2 separate regions of the Homo sapiens genome follow, and region 2 is linked to region 1. A link means that fine-mapping ties the variant in region 1 to the expression of a gene that starts in the linked region. Tissue or cell type: regulatory T cells. Region 1 holds a variant in brackets; the other region holds the start of a gene. All regions are shown on one strand. Distances are from middle to middle.

Evidence for each region. PIP is the estimated chance that this variant, and not a neighbour inherited with it, causes the effect.
Region 2: FRAT1 starts here. The variant in region 1 is fine-mapped to the expression of FRAT1 in regulatory T cells (Schmiedel 2018, PIP 0.95).

What each region holds. Positions count from the first base shown.
Region 1 is chr10:97,230,043-97,238,145 of GRCh38, reverse strand. It overlaps ARHGAP19 (Rho GTPase activating protein 19), which reads left to right. Exons shown (of 12, transcript NM_032900.6): 9 at 2,831-2,929. ARHGAP19-SLIT1 (ARHGAP19-SLIT1 readthrough (NMD candidate)) reads left to right here. Exons shown (of 15, transcript NR_037909.1): 9 at 2,831-2,929. It overlaps LOC105378447 (a long non-coding RNA gene), which reads right to left. Exons shown (of 3, transcript XR_946226.3): 3 at 6,908-6,990. Among named protein-coding and RNA genes, the nearest start is that of SLIT1, 48 kb to the right of the region's middle. The variant TTA/A (reference allele first, on the strand shown) is at 3,729.
Region 2 is chr10:97,314,284-97,322,386 of GRCh38, reverse strand. It overlaps FRAT1 (FRAT regulator of Wnt signaling pathway 1), which reads right to left and starts at 3,116. Exons shown (of 1, transcript NM_005479.4): 1 at 472-3,116. The coding sequence starts at 2,933. The coding sequence ends at 2,094. RefSeq lists enhancers at 1,732-1,891, 2,981-3,275, 3,013-3,802 and silencers at 2,232-2,331, 2,832-3,141.

The sequences.
Region 1 (8,103 bases):
TGTCTTCTGCCTCTACATCTTATTCCACTAGAAGGTCTTCAGAGGCAATATCACTCATGGAGCTGTCATCTCCTATGATAACAATGCCTTTTTCTAGAATACCTCCTGAAAGACTTGCCTGAGGCTGTTTTATAGTTAACTTTAAAAAAAAATAAGTAGGAGTGCACTCTAAAATAATGGTAAAAGGTATAAATGATGATAAAAGTATAGTATGGTAAATACATAAACCAGTAACATTATTGTTGTTTTGTTTTTTTGTTTTTTGTTTTTTTTTGGAGATAGAGTCTCGCTCTTTCGCCCAGGCTGGAGTGCAATGACGCAGACTTGGCTCACTGCAACCTCTGCCTCCCAGGTTCAAGCGATTCTCCTGCCTCAGCCTCCCGAGTAGCTGGGATTACAGGCGCCCACCACCACGCCCAGCTAATTTTTGTATTTTTAGTACAGATGAGGTTTCACCCTGTTGGCCAGGCTGGTCTTGAACTCCTGGTCTCAAGTGACCCACCTGTCTTGGCCTCCTAAAGTGTTGGGATTATAGGTGTGAGCTGCCACATCTAGCCCATTTATTATCATTATCAAGAATTATGTACTGTATATAATGGTATGTACTAGACTTTTATACAGCTTCCAGCACAGTAGGTTTGTTTATTCCAGCATCACTGCAGTCACTTGAGTAACACATTGCGCTGTGATGTTAGGACAGCAGTGATATCATGAGGTGATAGGAATTTTTCACCTCCATTATAATCTGATGGGACCTACTGTCATATACGTGGTCTGTCATTGACCAAAATGTCATTATGTGGTGCATGATTTTATCTGAACCTTATTTGTGGAAGAAACTATATTGTTTTCCGTAGACTGAGTTTTTTTTTTTTTTTTTTTGAGACAAGGTCTAGCTCTGTTGCCTAGACTGGAATGACGTGATTGATCTCAGCTCACTGCAACCTCTGCCTCCTGGGTTCAAGCCATCCTCCCACTTCAGCCTCCTGAGTAGCCGGGACTACAGGCATGTGCCACCATGCCTGGCTAATTTTTGTATTTTTTGTAGAGACAGGGTTTCGCCATGTTGCCCAGGCTGGTCATGAACTCTTGAGCTCAAGTGATCTGCTGGCTTTGGCCTCCCAAAGTGCTGAGATTACAGGCATGAGCCACCATGCTTGGCCTATATTCTGGATTTTAATGATTGCATTCCTGTAATGTTATTCAACATGTTTCACAGTCCTGTGTTCATGCTATAAACTGGTAGTTAGATCTATTTCTAGAGGCTTGATCTGATTCTAATTCAGTTTTTCAGGCTAAGAACACTTTATATGTGGTGTATTTTTTTTTTTTTTTTTTTTTTCTGAGTCTGTTGCCCAGGCTGGAGTGCAGTGGCACAATCATGGCTCACTGCAGCCTCGACCTCCCTGGGCTCAGGTGATCATGATCCTCCCACCACAGCCTCCCGAGTAGCTGAGACTACAGATGTACACCACCATGCCCGGCTAATTTTTTGTATTTTTAGTGGCATGTACTTTTTAATATGCATTTTAAAAAGGCTCTGGATACACCTTGCTAAATACCTTCCCAGAACATTTTGCCAGTTAACACTCCCTTGAGTTGGATATGAGAGAATTTACCTTATTGTACCCTTGCCACCATCAGGAAAGATGCATTTTTTACTTGTCCCAGTTTATTCAGGAGGGATACTTAACTAGCTAAGCTCTTCAGACGTGGCTAATTTTTCTGCCTGCCGAGACAATTAACTTTGAGAACCTCTTGGTACTTTTATGTAAAAGTAATTTTTTAACCTCCAGAACTTGAACTGGTAAAATTCCCAAATTTTTACAGTTCCGAAATTTTAAAAGTATAGTTAGAAAAGGCAGAAGAGGCTGGGTGTGGTGTCTCACGCCTGTAATCCTAGCACTTTGGTAGGCCGAGGTGGGCGGATCACTTGAGGTCAGGAGTTCGAGATCAGCCTGGCCAACACAGTGAAGCCCCATCTCTACTAAAAATAGAAAAAATTAGCTGGGTGTGGTGGCGCACGCCTGTAATCCCAGCTACTCGCCAGGCTGAGGCATGAGAATTGCTTGAACCTGGGAGGCGGAGGTTGCAGTGAGCCGAGATTGTGCCACTGCGCTCCAGCCTGGCAACAGAGTGAGACTCTGTCTCCAGCAACAACAGCAACATCATCAACAATCTGAAAAGGCAGAAGAGTAGAAGAGTTAAATGCTATATTATTATTACTTTTTAAGTGGGAAATGAATGGCTAATCAAAGCATTGAATAAGATTATTCAATGCATTGGGTCTTCTCGTTTTCCACTTTAGATACCTCCAGAGAGCTGATGTTGATAGCATTGACAAGTCTGCATTCTGATGTATTTCCTCTGATGGTATTGTTGTCAGGCAGTCATGATAGATGTCCATTTAAAGAGTTTTAGTAACTTAAAAAAATTCTGTATGCAATTTATGTTAAATTAGGGACTGTTTTAGATTGTGCCAGTAACTGTGTGGTTCCAAGATGCTTTGTTGCAAAAAAGTCTTGGTTAGCAGCTGGGGATCGTGGATAAATTTCATAAGCTCTCCAAGTCTCAGTTTTTTTGTCTGTAGAATGGGGACAGTAATTCCACATTCAAGGAATGTGGCGTGCAGAGCCCCTCAGAGCACTTGAATCCACTTCTTTTGGCATCATCATTTCTGACTTTGTGATTGGCTTTTTGACCTCCTAATCCATCTATGCGCAGACTCAGTTTTTCCTGGACTTTTATTTACACTTAGCTATTAGTTGTCACAGAATGCCGTGTCTTGATGGGAAAGTATTTATAAAATGTTCTCCATGTTTTCTTTTAGTTTAATAAGCAATCATTGACCCAGACACCAGGGCGAGAACCTTCTACTTCCCAGGTACAAAAGAGGGCTCGTTCGCGCTCCTTCAGTGGGCTTATTAAGGTAGGTATGCTGGGCTGTCGTTTTCAGCATTGATTTTTAGGAAATGTAACAATGTGATTTTTCTTATGCATAAAAAGTTTTCTTCTGTTTTTTGGGGACCCTATAAAGGGCTAGTTTATAAGGGGGTAAAGACAAAATGTTGAAAAGCTTTTATATTGCAAAGTGCTTTGCTGTGTTGCACATCAGAGAAGGGGCTCTGTGACGTGAGGAGTAGAAGTAAGGGTCCTTCCTTTTCTTCTGGGGCTAAGGGGCTAAGGACAGAGTCTGCATTCCTGAGCAGTGTAAGAGGCCCTTTTGTTTTCTGATCAGCTTCGAGTTACACACTTCTTTATGCAATTTGGTAAACCTGTGGAGAAGTGAGGAAGTTGAGACAGACTAGGGAAACTGTTAGAAAACTGGATTTTCCAATAGGCTAGTGAGTTTTGATACCCCAAATTTTTGTGAGCTTAATATTTTTAACAGTTGTTGTACTTTCTTCCATGTATCAAATTCAGTAAAAATCTTGTTTTTAAAACAAATACAAAATATGCTTCTATGTTATTGCTGCTATCACCATGTTTGCAGATTAAATTTATAAGTCTTCAAACTATCGGAACATGTAGTGAAGGAATATTGCCATCAGGTGGCAGTAGATAACTTGATCATGGGGTTCAAATTTCCATGCATGAACTAAGGCAAGGTTTTGGTTAACTTGGAGAGAGATGAGTGCTATATACACTGCTTTTCTTTTCTATTTTTCTTTTTTGGAAGAGATTGCTGCCCCAAAAGCACTGAGTATCTTTTTTTTTTTTTTTTTTTT[TTA/A]ATTTTTATTTCTGGGTACATGTGCAGGATGTGCAGGTTTGTTATATAGGTAAATGTGTGCCATGGTGGTTTGCTGCACCTGTAAACCCATCACCTAGGTATGAAGCCCAGCATGCGTTAGCTATTTTTATTTTTTTAATTTTTTTTTGAGACAGAGTCTCGCTGTTGTCGCCCAGGCTGGAGTGCAATAACATGGTCTCGGCTCACTGCAACCTCCCCCTCTTGGGTTCAAGCGATTCTCCTGCCTCAGCTTCCCAAGTAGGTAGGATTACAAGTGCCTGCCACCATGCCCAGCTAATTTTTGCCTTTTTAGTAGAGAGGGGGTTTCACCATGTCGGCCAGGCTGGTCTGGAACTCCTGACCTCAGGTGATTCACCCGCCTCAGCCTCCCAAATTGCTGGGATTACAGGCATAAGCCATTGCGTCTGGCCAGCTACTTTTCTTAATACTCTCCTTCCCCCCACTCCACCCCCCAACAGGCCCCAGTGTGTGTTGTTCCCCTCCCTGTGTCCATGTGTTCTCATTGTTTAGCTCCCACTTTTTTTTTTTAGATGGAGTCTCTCTCTGTCACCCAGGCTGGAGTGCAGTGGCTTGATCTCAGCTCACTGCAGCCTCCGCCTCCTGGTTTCAAGCCATTTTCCTGCCTCAGCCTCCCAAGTAGCTGGGACTACAGGCGTGCGCCACCATGCCTGGCTCATTTTTGTAGTTTTAGTAGAGACGAGGTTTCACCATGTTGGCCAGGCTGGTCTCGAACTCGTGACCTCAAGTGATCCACCCGCCTTGGCCTTCCAAAGTACTGGGATTATAGGCATGAGCCACTGCACCCGGCCAGCTCCTACTCACAAGTGAGAACATGTGGTGTTTGGTTTTCTGTTCTTGTGTTAGTTTGCTGAGGATGGCTTCCTTTTGTTTTTATTTTTGGTGTTTTGCCCTGCTTTTCTTTTAAAAATTACTTTGTTATTAAGATATATAATTCCAGCAACACAGGGAGCTCTTTGCTTAAAATTTAAAATTTTTGCCCTAAAAATAAATAACTTGTAATATTTATTTATTTATTTATTTTTGAGACAGGGTCTTGCTCTGCTGCTCAGGCTGAAGTACAAGTGGCACCATCATGGCTTATTGCAGCCTTGATCTCCTGGGCGCTCAGCGATCCTCCTACTTCAGCCTCCCAAGTAGCTGGGACCACAAGTGCATGCCATCATACCTGGCTGATTTTTAAATGTTTGTAGAGATGGGGTCTTGCTGTGTTGCTGGTCTTTTTTTTTTGAGACAGTCTCGCTCTATGCCTCAGGCTGGAGTGCAGTGGCGTGATCTCAGCTCACTGCAACCTCCATCTCCAGGGTTCAAGTGATTCTTCCACCTCAGCCTCCCTAGTAGCTGGGATTACAGGCGCCCACCACCATGCCCGGCTAATTTTTTGTATTTTTAGTAGAGATGGGGTTTCACCATGTTGGCCAGCCTGGTCTTGAACTCCTGGCCTCAAGTAATCTGCCCGCTTCGGCCTCCCAAAGTGCTGAGATTATAGGCGTGAGCCACCATGCCCAGCCTGTGTTGCTGGTCTTGAATTTCTGGGCTCAAGTGATCCTCCTGCTTTGGCCCCCTGAAGTGCTGGGATTACAGATGTGAGCCACTGTGTCTGTAATTTTTTTTTTTTGAGGTACAGCTGTTAGCATTTACAAATTCATCTTACTGTAATTTTGGTCCTAGTTATAATTTATAGATATCTAGAATTCACTCTCAATCCTGACCTCCTGGGGCCAGTAGCTTCTAGGACATTAGGCTTACTTGACATCAAAATTTCCTTTGCCATCTACAGAGTGAAAAGGCAACCCTGGATTGGGAGAAAATATTTGCAAATCATATTTATGATTAGGGATTAATATCCATAATAATCTAAAGAACTCCTATAACTCAACACAGCAAAAACAACCTCATTAAAGAGTGGGCAGAGGCCGCGCACAGTGGCTCACGCCTGTAATCCCAGTACTTTGGGAGGCTGAGGTGGGCGGATCACGAGGTCAGGAGATTAAGACCATTCTGGCTAACACGGTGAAACTCCATCTCTATTAAAAATACAAAAAATTAGCCGGGCATGTTGGCATGTGCCTGTAGTCCCAGCTACTCAGGAGGCTGAGGCAGGAGAATCGTTTGAACCCAGGAGGCAGAGGTTGCAGTGAGCCGAGATTGAGCCACTGTACTCCAGCCTGGGTGACAGAGCGAGACTCTGTCTCAAAAAAAAAAAAAAAAAAAAAAAAAAATAGTGAGCAAAGGACTTAAATAGAAATTTCTCCAGAGAAGATGTACAGATGGCCAAGAAACACATGAAAAGATGTTCAACATCACTAATCATTAGGGAAATGTAAATCAAAACCACAATTAGATACCACTTCACACCCACTAGGATGACTATTATTAAAAAAAAAAAAAAAAAAACAACGGAAAATAACAAATGTTGATGAGGATGTGGAGAATTTGGAACCCCTATGCATTATTGATAGGGATGTAAAATGGAGGAGCCACTGTGGAAAACAGTATGGCAGTTCCTAAAAAATTTAAATAGAATGACCTTGTGATCCAGCAATGCTACTCCCGGTATATAACCAAAAGAATTGAAAGCAGGGTCTTGAGGCAATATTTGTACACCCGTATTCATAGCAGCATTATTCACAAAAGCCAAAAGGCAGAAGCAACCCAACTGTCTATTGACTGATGAATGGATGACAAACCTTGGATATACAGATAATGGAACATTATTTGTCCTTAAAAAGGAAAGAAATTCTGACATATCCTACAACATGCGTGAATCTTGAAGATATTATGCTAAGAGAAATAATCCAGTCATAAAAGGAAAAATACTGTATGATTCCACTGAGGTACCTGTGAGTCAAGTTCAGAGACAGAAAGTAGAGAAGGTGGTTGGTTGTCAGGGGAGCTAAGAGTATGAGGAGAATGGGGAGATATTATTTAATGGGTACAGTATTTCTGTTTGGGAGGATGAGAAAGTTCTGAAGATAGATGATGGTGATGGTTGCACAACACTATTAATATACTTAATACCATTGAACTGTATACTTAAAAATGGTTAAAATAGTAAATTTTATGTTATGTTCATTTTATCATTGTTTAAAAAAAATCCCTTAGCTAGAATCCTAAAAGTGCATTTACCTGCTTAGACAGGGCTAGTAAAACGAACATCGTTAGTTTACTCTTGTTTTTTTCTTCTCATTTGGAAGAATCTGTCATTCCCTCTGACTTCCCTGTCATAGAGATGATTGAGAATCAGAAAAGTTATAGTCAGATAAATGTTCCTCTATGTGTTAGTCTTTTTTTTTTTTTTTTTTTTTTTTTTTTTTGGTGAGACAAGAGTCTCACTAGGTGTGCAGGCTGGAGTGCAGTGGCATGATCTCAGCTCACTGCAACTTCCACTTCCTGGGTTCAAGTGATTCTCATGCCTCGGCCTCCCGAGTAGCTGGGATTACAGGCATGCACCACCACGCCCAGTTAATTTTAGTAGAGACAGTATTTCACCATGTTGGCCAGGCTGGTCTCAAACTCCTGGCCTCCAGCGATTCACCCGCCTCAGCGTCCCAAAGTGCTGAGATTACAGGCGTGAGCCACCGCTCCCGGCCTAAAATATTATTTTTGTGTTTTCCCTCAGCCTTATCAAGGTATAATTGACCATCTAGCCTGTCTGGATCCCTTTTTTGGCTAGAGTTTTTTCCTCCAGAACTCCTCTCATGTAAATTATTTATTAAATCAGAATGTTCTGAATATTGCTGCTCATATTTATAATGCAGGGTTTAATGTTCTAGTTTTGATATGTTCTTTTTTTAGAATTCAAATTTATTCTCTAAGGGAAAAAAAAATTTCTCCAAAGATGGTAGAATTGTCACTGTTGGCGGTTACCTAAACTACATCATCTTCTAAGCTGTTCAGAGATGAAAGGGCTTTTAGTCTTGCTCTGAATGTCAGTACAGTCATGTGACCCCCTTAAGAAGGCCTCTACCTTCTTGTGGCTATATTAGGAACTCTTATAGAATGTCTCCAAATGTTCCAGTCCTGTGTGAGTAAATGACAGGGAGGAAGAAGTGCCTTAGAGAAGAGCCAGCCTAAGTATCCCTCAGTGGTAAGTAGGGGGGAGGGACTTTTTAAATAGTTGCCAGAGACAGCACATCTTTGGGGAAAAAAATTATATGATGAGTAACTGGTGTTTCTATATTGTGAGTAACTGGTCTCAGAGGCACACTGTAATTGACCTATATTAGCTTGTTTAAATCAACTATAAAGTTGCTTCTAACCTTTCAGCCCTTTTAAATGTGGAGGAAAAGTGATCACTTAAACAAAAGTAATGATTTTGGGTTTTTTTGGTA
Region 2 (8,103 bases), 84 kb before region 1:
TGTCACTGCTTAGGGACAGAATGGTATAAATGTGCCAGGGGCAAAGACAGGAGTCTTTTGTAAGTTTCCACCCAGCTTTCCTACCACCAGGCTCACATTGTGAGCAGTCTCCTAATCAAGAGCTGCCCCAGCCTTAAGGCCCACCTTGTGGAACAAGTGCACTTAATGGCCACGGTGAGAAAGAAGAAAAAAAGAAAAAGAAAAAAAAAAAGATAAGCCTCCCAGTTTGCAGTGACTGGCTGATCTGATGTCCTTTGCTAATAGAGGCAGCTTTATAACACATCTCCATCACTGACTAGTAATCCAAAAGGCTCTGAGGTTTTAACGAATGGGATTGGTCCAAAACCTGACCTCACTTTCATTTAATTTCATGCCAGCTCCAATACACACCCAGCTGCGGAGACCTTGTCTAGCTAGTGAGCTGCTCAGACACAAAGGCGCTCTAATTACCATCCACAAGCCAGGCTGACAGAGATTTCAAGTGTTTTCATGTTTATGGAGATCAGAGAAATGTGTTCTGTACATCTTTTTCACTGATGGCAAGTATAAAATAAAACCAAACAAAAAACCCAACACATTTATTCAAAGCAGGCATTTCAGTTAAGTTAAAATCCTATAATCAGGATAGCCACAATTCCAGACACTCCGGTGCGAAGTGTAGATATGTCAGTAGCCACATCTGGATGATGAACAAGCCATTGACTATAAAAACGAGAACAACAGCACAGTCTCAGCGCCTTTAGAGTGAGTGAACAGTATGTTCCAAGCACTTCACCATGGTTCACAATGGCAAAGCCTGCAGCTTCTCCATTTGGAGGGTCACATTTTCTACTCGGTTTCCTGCACTTACAAAGGCCAGCTGGCATGGCTGGGGGAGGGGCAGAGGGAGGAAATCAACTCGTCTATCCAGGGAATTGCAGCTGTTATTGCAAATGGCCCCGGAGAGCCCATTATAAGCTGCTGTGCTAGGCTGTGTGTCCCTGGAGTGTCCATCACATGGCGTCTCCCTAGCCCCCAACCCAGGCCCCCAGGATCCCAGAGCCACCCGCTTGAGTAGGACTGCAGAGCCGAGTAGGAGAGGAGGAACCCAGGGCCCGGTCTCGGGAGTTTCCGTGAAAGCCCGGAGCGCGGCCAGGGGCGGTGGTCGCCTACCGAAGCACAGCCGCCCAGCACGTCCGCGCTTTCCCACACCCGCGGTGGCGGCGACGCGCGTGTCCTCAGGAGACTCCAGCACTTGCAAAACACTGCGCTCTTCTCCGAGCACCGGCAGAACCTGGCTACTCTGTCCCGCAACCCAGTGCGTGCCCAGGAAACAGTGACCTTGAACCGAGGAGAGGCGGGCCGGCTCTGAAAATACACTTTAGACAGGGCGTGGGGTTCACTCCGCGCCTCTCTACCCTTCCACCACCATTCAATACTCCCCGCCCCCACCTCCTTTCCCCACCCGTGTCGTACAGCCTTCCCCCACCACTCTGAGAAGAGAGACAGTTGCAAAGAGAGCGCAGGGGTTAACTCCTATTCAACCCCCAAAGGGTCCCTTCATGGCACCGCATGTTTGGTATTAAGCAGCACCTCCAAAGACACAAGATGGTTTTTTTAAGTCTGGCAGATTGGGCTGCACCCTGAAATTATCTACTCATGTTCTCCTCCCCCAAAGTGGATCAGGAGCCAGCCCTGAAAAGGTAAAGCAAGTAACTGGCATCATCCTCCGTGGTTCCGGCGCACCGCGATCCGGAGAAGCGTGGATTGTGGCCACATGGTCGCGGGGCTGGAGGGCACTGAGAGGCTGCGAGGAAATGCAGGCTCCGCGGCCAGGTCGGGTCACGCCAAATAAGGAGTCCTACTGACTTGTACGTTTGAGGTGCGCTCTGTAAAATCTGCCTTAAATAGGGCCAAAGTCCTTCATTCCAAATATTTTGGCCCTCAACCCCAGTTACCCGCGAAACACTCGCGATTTTTCGGTTCCTCGTCATTAGCTTTTTACTCTCGCTTCCAAAAGCCAGAGTTCTCCACCAGCCTGAGTAGAACTGCAGCCCTCAAGGGAACCCCTTGCCCTCCAGTCTGAGGCTGGCGCTGTGGCCACCCCGGGCGTGTTAGCTGCCAGGCACAAGAACGCCGTCGCCAGTTCTGAGCTGCGCCCTCCCGGAGGCGCCAGGGTCACTGCAGGCCGCGCGAGGGCTGCGAGGCGAAGGGGGTTCATGCACCGGGGCCGACAGAGGTCCCAGGAGCGGGCGTTGGGGAAGCTTTGCACGTAACTGCAGCCGTCGCGAATGAAGCCTTCGCACGGCCTCCTTGATGAGGTTTCCAGAGAGCACTAGCTGCTGCAGAAGCCGGTGCGGGTCGTCGTCGCCTGTGCGGGTTTCTGGTTGGGACCCGCGTCGCTGCTGCAGGCGGCGGGAGGCGGCGGCGCCCCGGAGCCATCCTCGCCGGCACGGACCCGACAGCGGCTGCGGGATGCCCTGCTTGCCAGCTCCCGGAGGCCCATCAAGGTCGGCCTGAGGGGGCAGTGGGGACAGCGCGCTGGGGCCTGTGGCGAGCTCGGCCACGCAGTAGGGCGCAGCGCGGCCCCGCACGCGGCCGCGGTCCCCCAGGGCGCAGCGCAGGACCCCAGGGGGCGCCGGGCCCACAGTCTCCGCCAACGCGGGCGGCAGCAGCAGCGGCACCGCCGGGGACCTGGCCTTGTCCGCCGGCACCGCCGCAGCCAGGGGCCCCGGGGCCCGCAGCGGCGCCCCCGGGGGCCCGCACGGCGAGGCCGGGCTGTGCTGCGCCGCGTCCAGCTGCAGCGTCTCGCCGATCTGGGCCACCAGCCGGTCCACCTCGCCCGAGCTGCCCAGCGCCACTGACTGCTGCAGTAGGAGGAAGCTGTCCTCCTCCTCTTCCTCCCCCTCCGCCTCCTCGCCGGCTTCCTCTTCCTCCTCCCTCCGGCACGGCATGGCCCCCTGTCTGGGCACCCGGAGCTGTGCGGGCGTCGCTGGGGGCTCGGCTGCCGGCGGGCGCGGTGGGCCGCGGCGGAGCGGGCGCGGAGCTGAAGACTAAGTCTGGACCGGGGCCGGGGCGGACGCGGAAGCCGGAGCCCGCCAGGCACTCTAGCCGCGCGCCTGCAGCCGCGGGAGCCGGAATCCTGCCGGCTCGGGTTGATTTGTAAACAATGGGTGACGTCACGTCGGGCCCTACCACCGCGCCGGGGAGGGGGTGCTGTGCCGCTGGGGGACGGCGCTTCTGTGGGATTGGGGGTCTGGGTGAAGCCGGACTGCCTTCTGAGCTCCTTCGCTCAGGGTGCTGTCTGCAAGGGCGCCCTGGGGACCTGATCCTGGCTCCCGCAGTCGGGCGCGATTGGCATTTCCAGAAATGGGCACCAGCGTGAACCCTGTTGGTTTCTTCCACACACAAGCAAGCACGCACACTAACACACACCCACCCACCCACACACCCCTTCTCTCCGTGCGTCAACTCAACCGGTTTTTAGCGTTTGCGCTTTTGAGGTCCGGCATGCGGGCGTCTGGTGAGGATGGAAAGGAAAGGGAGTCAGGCTAGGGATTTGTACGGAGATTAGGGAAATGAAGCTGACGGGAATGGAAAGGAAGAAGGGGACCTTGTCGTTCGATGGAGGTGGCAGAGTTGGAAATGGCAAAGAAAGGCCACAGATTAATGTTTTTTGATCGAGATCCTGGGCGGATGGGGGCCTGGACTGGGGTTGGCATTGCTGGAGAGGAGGTTGCTAGTCTTTTTGTTTATTTGTTTGTTTGTTTTTTTGAGACGGAGTCTCGCTCTATCGCCCAGGCTGGAGTGCAGTGGCTCGATCTCCACTCACTACAACCTCCGCCTCCTGCGTTTAAGCAATTCTCCTGCCTCAGCCTTCCGAGTAGCTGGGATTACAGGCGCCCACCACCACGCCCGGCTAATTTTTGTATTTTTAGTAGAGACGGGGTTTCACCATGTTGGCCAGGCTGGTCTCGAACTCCTGACCTCAGGTGATCCACCCGCCTCAGCCTCCCAAAGTGCTGGGATTACAGGCGTGAGCCACTGCGCCCGGCCTAGGTTGCTACTCTTTTTGTTTTGTTTTGTTTTTTTGAGACAGAGTTTCGCTCTTGTTGCCCAGGCTGGAGTACAATGGCGCAATCTCCGCTCACCACAACTTCCGCCTCCTGGGTTCAAGCAGTTCTCCTGCCTCAGCCTCCCGAGTTGCTGGGATTACAGGCATGCGCCGCCATGCCCAGCCTAATTTTGTGTTTTTAGCAGAGATGGGGTTTCTCCATATTGGTCAGGCTGGTCTGGTACTCCCGACCTCAGGTGATCCACCTGCCTCGGCCTCCCAAAATCCTGGGATTACAAGCGTGAGCCACCACGCCTGGCTATAGGTTGTTAGTCTTAAGAGGGGCTATGTCCAGAAAGTTGTTTAAAAAAAAGCCTCAGACCAGTAGGGGGGATGGGCTCTGAGGAGGTACGTAGTAGCAGAGAAAAATACCTGTTTGGATGAAAATGGAGATACGCTTCCTTCCTTCCTTTCTTCCTTTTCTTTCTCTTTCTTTTCTTTCTTTGACAGAATTTCACTCTGTCACCCAGGCTGGAGTGCAGTGGTGTGATCTGGCTGATTGCAGCCTTGACTTCCCAGGATCAGGTGATCCTCCCACCTCAGCCTCCCGAGTAGCTGGGACAATAGGCACGCGCCACTACACCTGGCTAATTTTTGTATTTTTAGTGGATACAGGGTTTCGCCATGTTGGCCCGTCCGGTCTCAAACTCCTGGACTCAAGCAATCCCTCCTCCCGAAATGCTGGCGTTACAGACATGAGCCACCGCGCCCAGCCTGGAAGCAACTTTAAAATTCTGAGCATGATATAGAAAATAGGATACAAAGAAAGAAATGAGCCTGGAGATCCAGATAAATAGAAAACGAGGGTCTTGTTGGGCAGTTCCAACGATAATAATTATAGGAGCAAACCTTTAGGAAGGGATGAGTGCAGGAAAGAGGTAGGGAAGTTGGTTTAAAAAGAGTTGGGTTTGTTTTTGTCAAGTGTGGAGGAAAAAATGTAAAAACAGAGGAAGAGACAGTTTAAACAAAGCCATTGGATTTCTAATCTACGAAATCTGGATTTCTACAGGGTGTCATAAGGTTCATCACCTTGTTTTTGTGGATTCCTTAGGATTTTCTATATAGAAGATCGTGTCATCTACAAATAGAGATAGTTTTGCTTCTCTTCTTTTTCTTTTTTCTTTTCTTTTTTTCTTTTTTTTTTTTTTTGAGACAGGGTCTCATTCTGTGGCCCAGGCTGGAGTGCAGTGGCATGATCTCTGCTCACTGCAGCCTTGACTTCCCCAGGCTCAGTTGATCCTCCTATCTCAGCCTCCTGAGTAGCTGGGACTACAGGTGCAAGCCACCATGCCTGGCTAATTTTTGTATTTTTTGTAGACCCAGGGGGTCTCACCATGTTGCTCGGGCAGGTCTTGAACTCCTGAGCTCAAACGATCCGCCCACCCCAGCTTCCTAAAGTGCTAAGATTACAGGCATGAGCCACAGCACCTGGCCCTGTCTTATTCCTGATCTTAGATGAAAACATTCAGTCTTTCACAACATTAGGTAGGATGTTAGCTGTGGATTTTTCATAGATAGTATTTATCAGGTTAAGAATGTTCCCTTCTATTCCTGGTTTGTTGGGCATTTGTTGTTGTTGTTGTTGTTGTTGTTATTGTTGTTGTGATGGAGTCTTGCTCTGTTGTCCAGGCTGGAGTGCAGTGGCACAATCTTCGCTCACTGCAACCTCTGCCTCCCGGGTTCAAGCAGTTCTCCTGCCTCAGCCTGCTAAGTAGCTGACACTGCAGGCGTGCACCACCATGCCTGGCTAATTTTTGTATTTTTAGTAGAGATGGGGTTTCACCATGTTGGCCAGGCTGGTCTTGAACTCCTGACTTCAGGTGATCCGCCTGCCTCGACCTCCCAAAGTGCTGGGATTTACAGGCATGAGCCACCAGACCCGGCCTACTTAAAATTTTCAAATGAAAATAATTAGTAGCAGTTTACAATTTGTGCATTTTTATCTTTGGCTCACAACTTATAAGCCTCATATATTGTTGTGGGCATGAAAAATGGTACAACCACCTTGGAAAAAGGCCTGACAGTTTCTTATAAAATGAAACATACACCTGTCCTGGAACACAGTTTCAATCCTGGATACTTAGCTAAGAGAAATAAACACATGGGCCCACATCAAGGCCTACAGGGAGGTGATCATAGCATATTTTTTTTTCTTTTTAATTGAGACAGGGTCTCCCTCTTTTGCCCAGGCTGGAGTGCAGTGGCACGATGTTGGCTCACATCAAAGGAGTTTTATTCATAAAAGCCAAAAGTGAAATGGCCCAAGTGTTCATCAACAGGTGAATGGACAAACAACCTATTGTACATTCACACAGGATGATGACAGAAAACAGTTCAGCAACAGAAAGGACTGAATATTGCTGCATGCAGTAACATGAATGAAGCTTAAAAACAGTATGCTAAGTGAAAGAAGCCAGATAAAAACGGATATATGTCATATGTTTCTGTTTATATGAAGTTCTAGAACAGGGAAAGTAACTTACGGTGGGGAAAACATCAGAAGACTGGTTGCCTTTGGAAAAGGTAGAGCAGGGGCAGGACTGACACTGTGACACTGAACAGACAGAGGGAACTTGCAGGAGGGTGGACATGTTCTAAATCTTGATATCTTGATTTGGGTTTCATAGGTTTAGGCATGTGTTAAAACTCATTGAGTGGGCTGGGCGCGGTGGCTCACGCCTGTAATCCCAACGCTTTGAGAGGCTGAGGTGGGCAGATCAGCTGAGGTCAGGAGTTTGAGACCAGTCTGGTCAACATGGTGAAACCCCGTCTCTACTAAAAATACAACAAGTAGCAGGGCATGGTGGCTCATGCCTGTAGTCCCAGCTACTCAGGAGATTGAGGCAGGAGAATTGCTTGAGCCCGAGAGGCAGAGGTTGCAGTAAGCCAAGATTGTGCCACTGCACTCCAGCCTGGGCAGTAGAGTGAGACCCTGTCTCAAAAAAACAAAAAACAAAAACAAAACAAAACAAAACAAAAAAACAAAGAGAAAAAAATTGTAGATTTTACATGAAGAGAATAAATTGTAAAGAAAGCTTGAATTATAGTAATAGACATGCTGATGAGTTTGGAGTGAGGTGTACTGATGTTTGCAATTTATTCCAAAGTACAGTAAAATGTGAGAAGGATTAATATAGATGGATTAGAAGGATAGTTAGACAGGTAGATATGTGATAAAACATGTATAGTAATATGTTAATGTTACCATATGACCCATCCATTCTACTTTTAGCTATATACCAGAGAAAATTGAAAACATATGTTCACATAAAAACGTGTACACAAATGTTGATAGCAGCATTATTCATGATAGTCAAAAAGTGCAAACAACTCAGATGTTCATCAGCTGATAAATGGATGAATCAAATGTCGTATACTCATACGATGGAGTATTATTCACCATAAAAAGGAATGAAGTACTGATACATGCTACAAAAGGAATGAATGTTGAAAACATTATGCTGAGTGAACAAATCAGACAGGAAAGGCAACATATTGTGTAATTCTATTTATATGAAACGTCCAGAATAGACAAATCCATAGAAACAGAAGGTAGATTAGTGGTTGCCAGGGGATGGGAGAAGGGGGGAATTAGGACTAACAGCTAATGGGTAAGAGTTTTCTTTTTGGGGTTATAAAAATGTTTTGAAATTAGTGGTGATGTTTGTACAACATAATGAATATACAGTACTAAAAACTATTGAAGTGTACACTTTAAAATGTTGAATTTTATGTTATGTGAAATATATCTCAATTTTTAAAATACTAGGATCTAGGTGTTGGGTAACAGGGTATTCTTTCAATTTTGTTGGCTGTTTGAAAAATTTTACAATAAAGTGTTAGAAACAATAAGCCATAGAAAAGGGGAAATTGGCTGGGTGCAGTGGCTCAGGCCTGTAATCCCAGCACTTTGGTAGGCCGAGGTGGGTGGATCATGAGGTCAAGAGATCGAGACCATCCTGGCTAACATGGTGAAATCCCATCTCTACTAAAAATACAAAAATTAACTG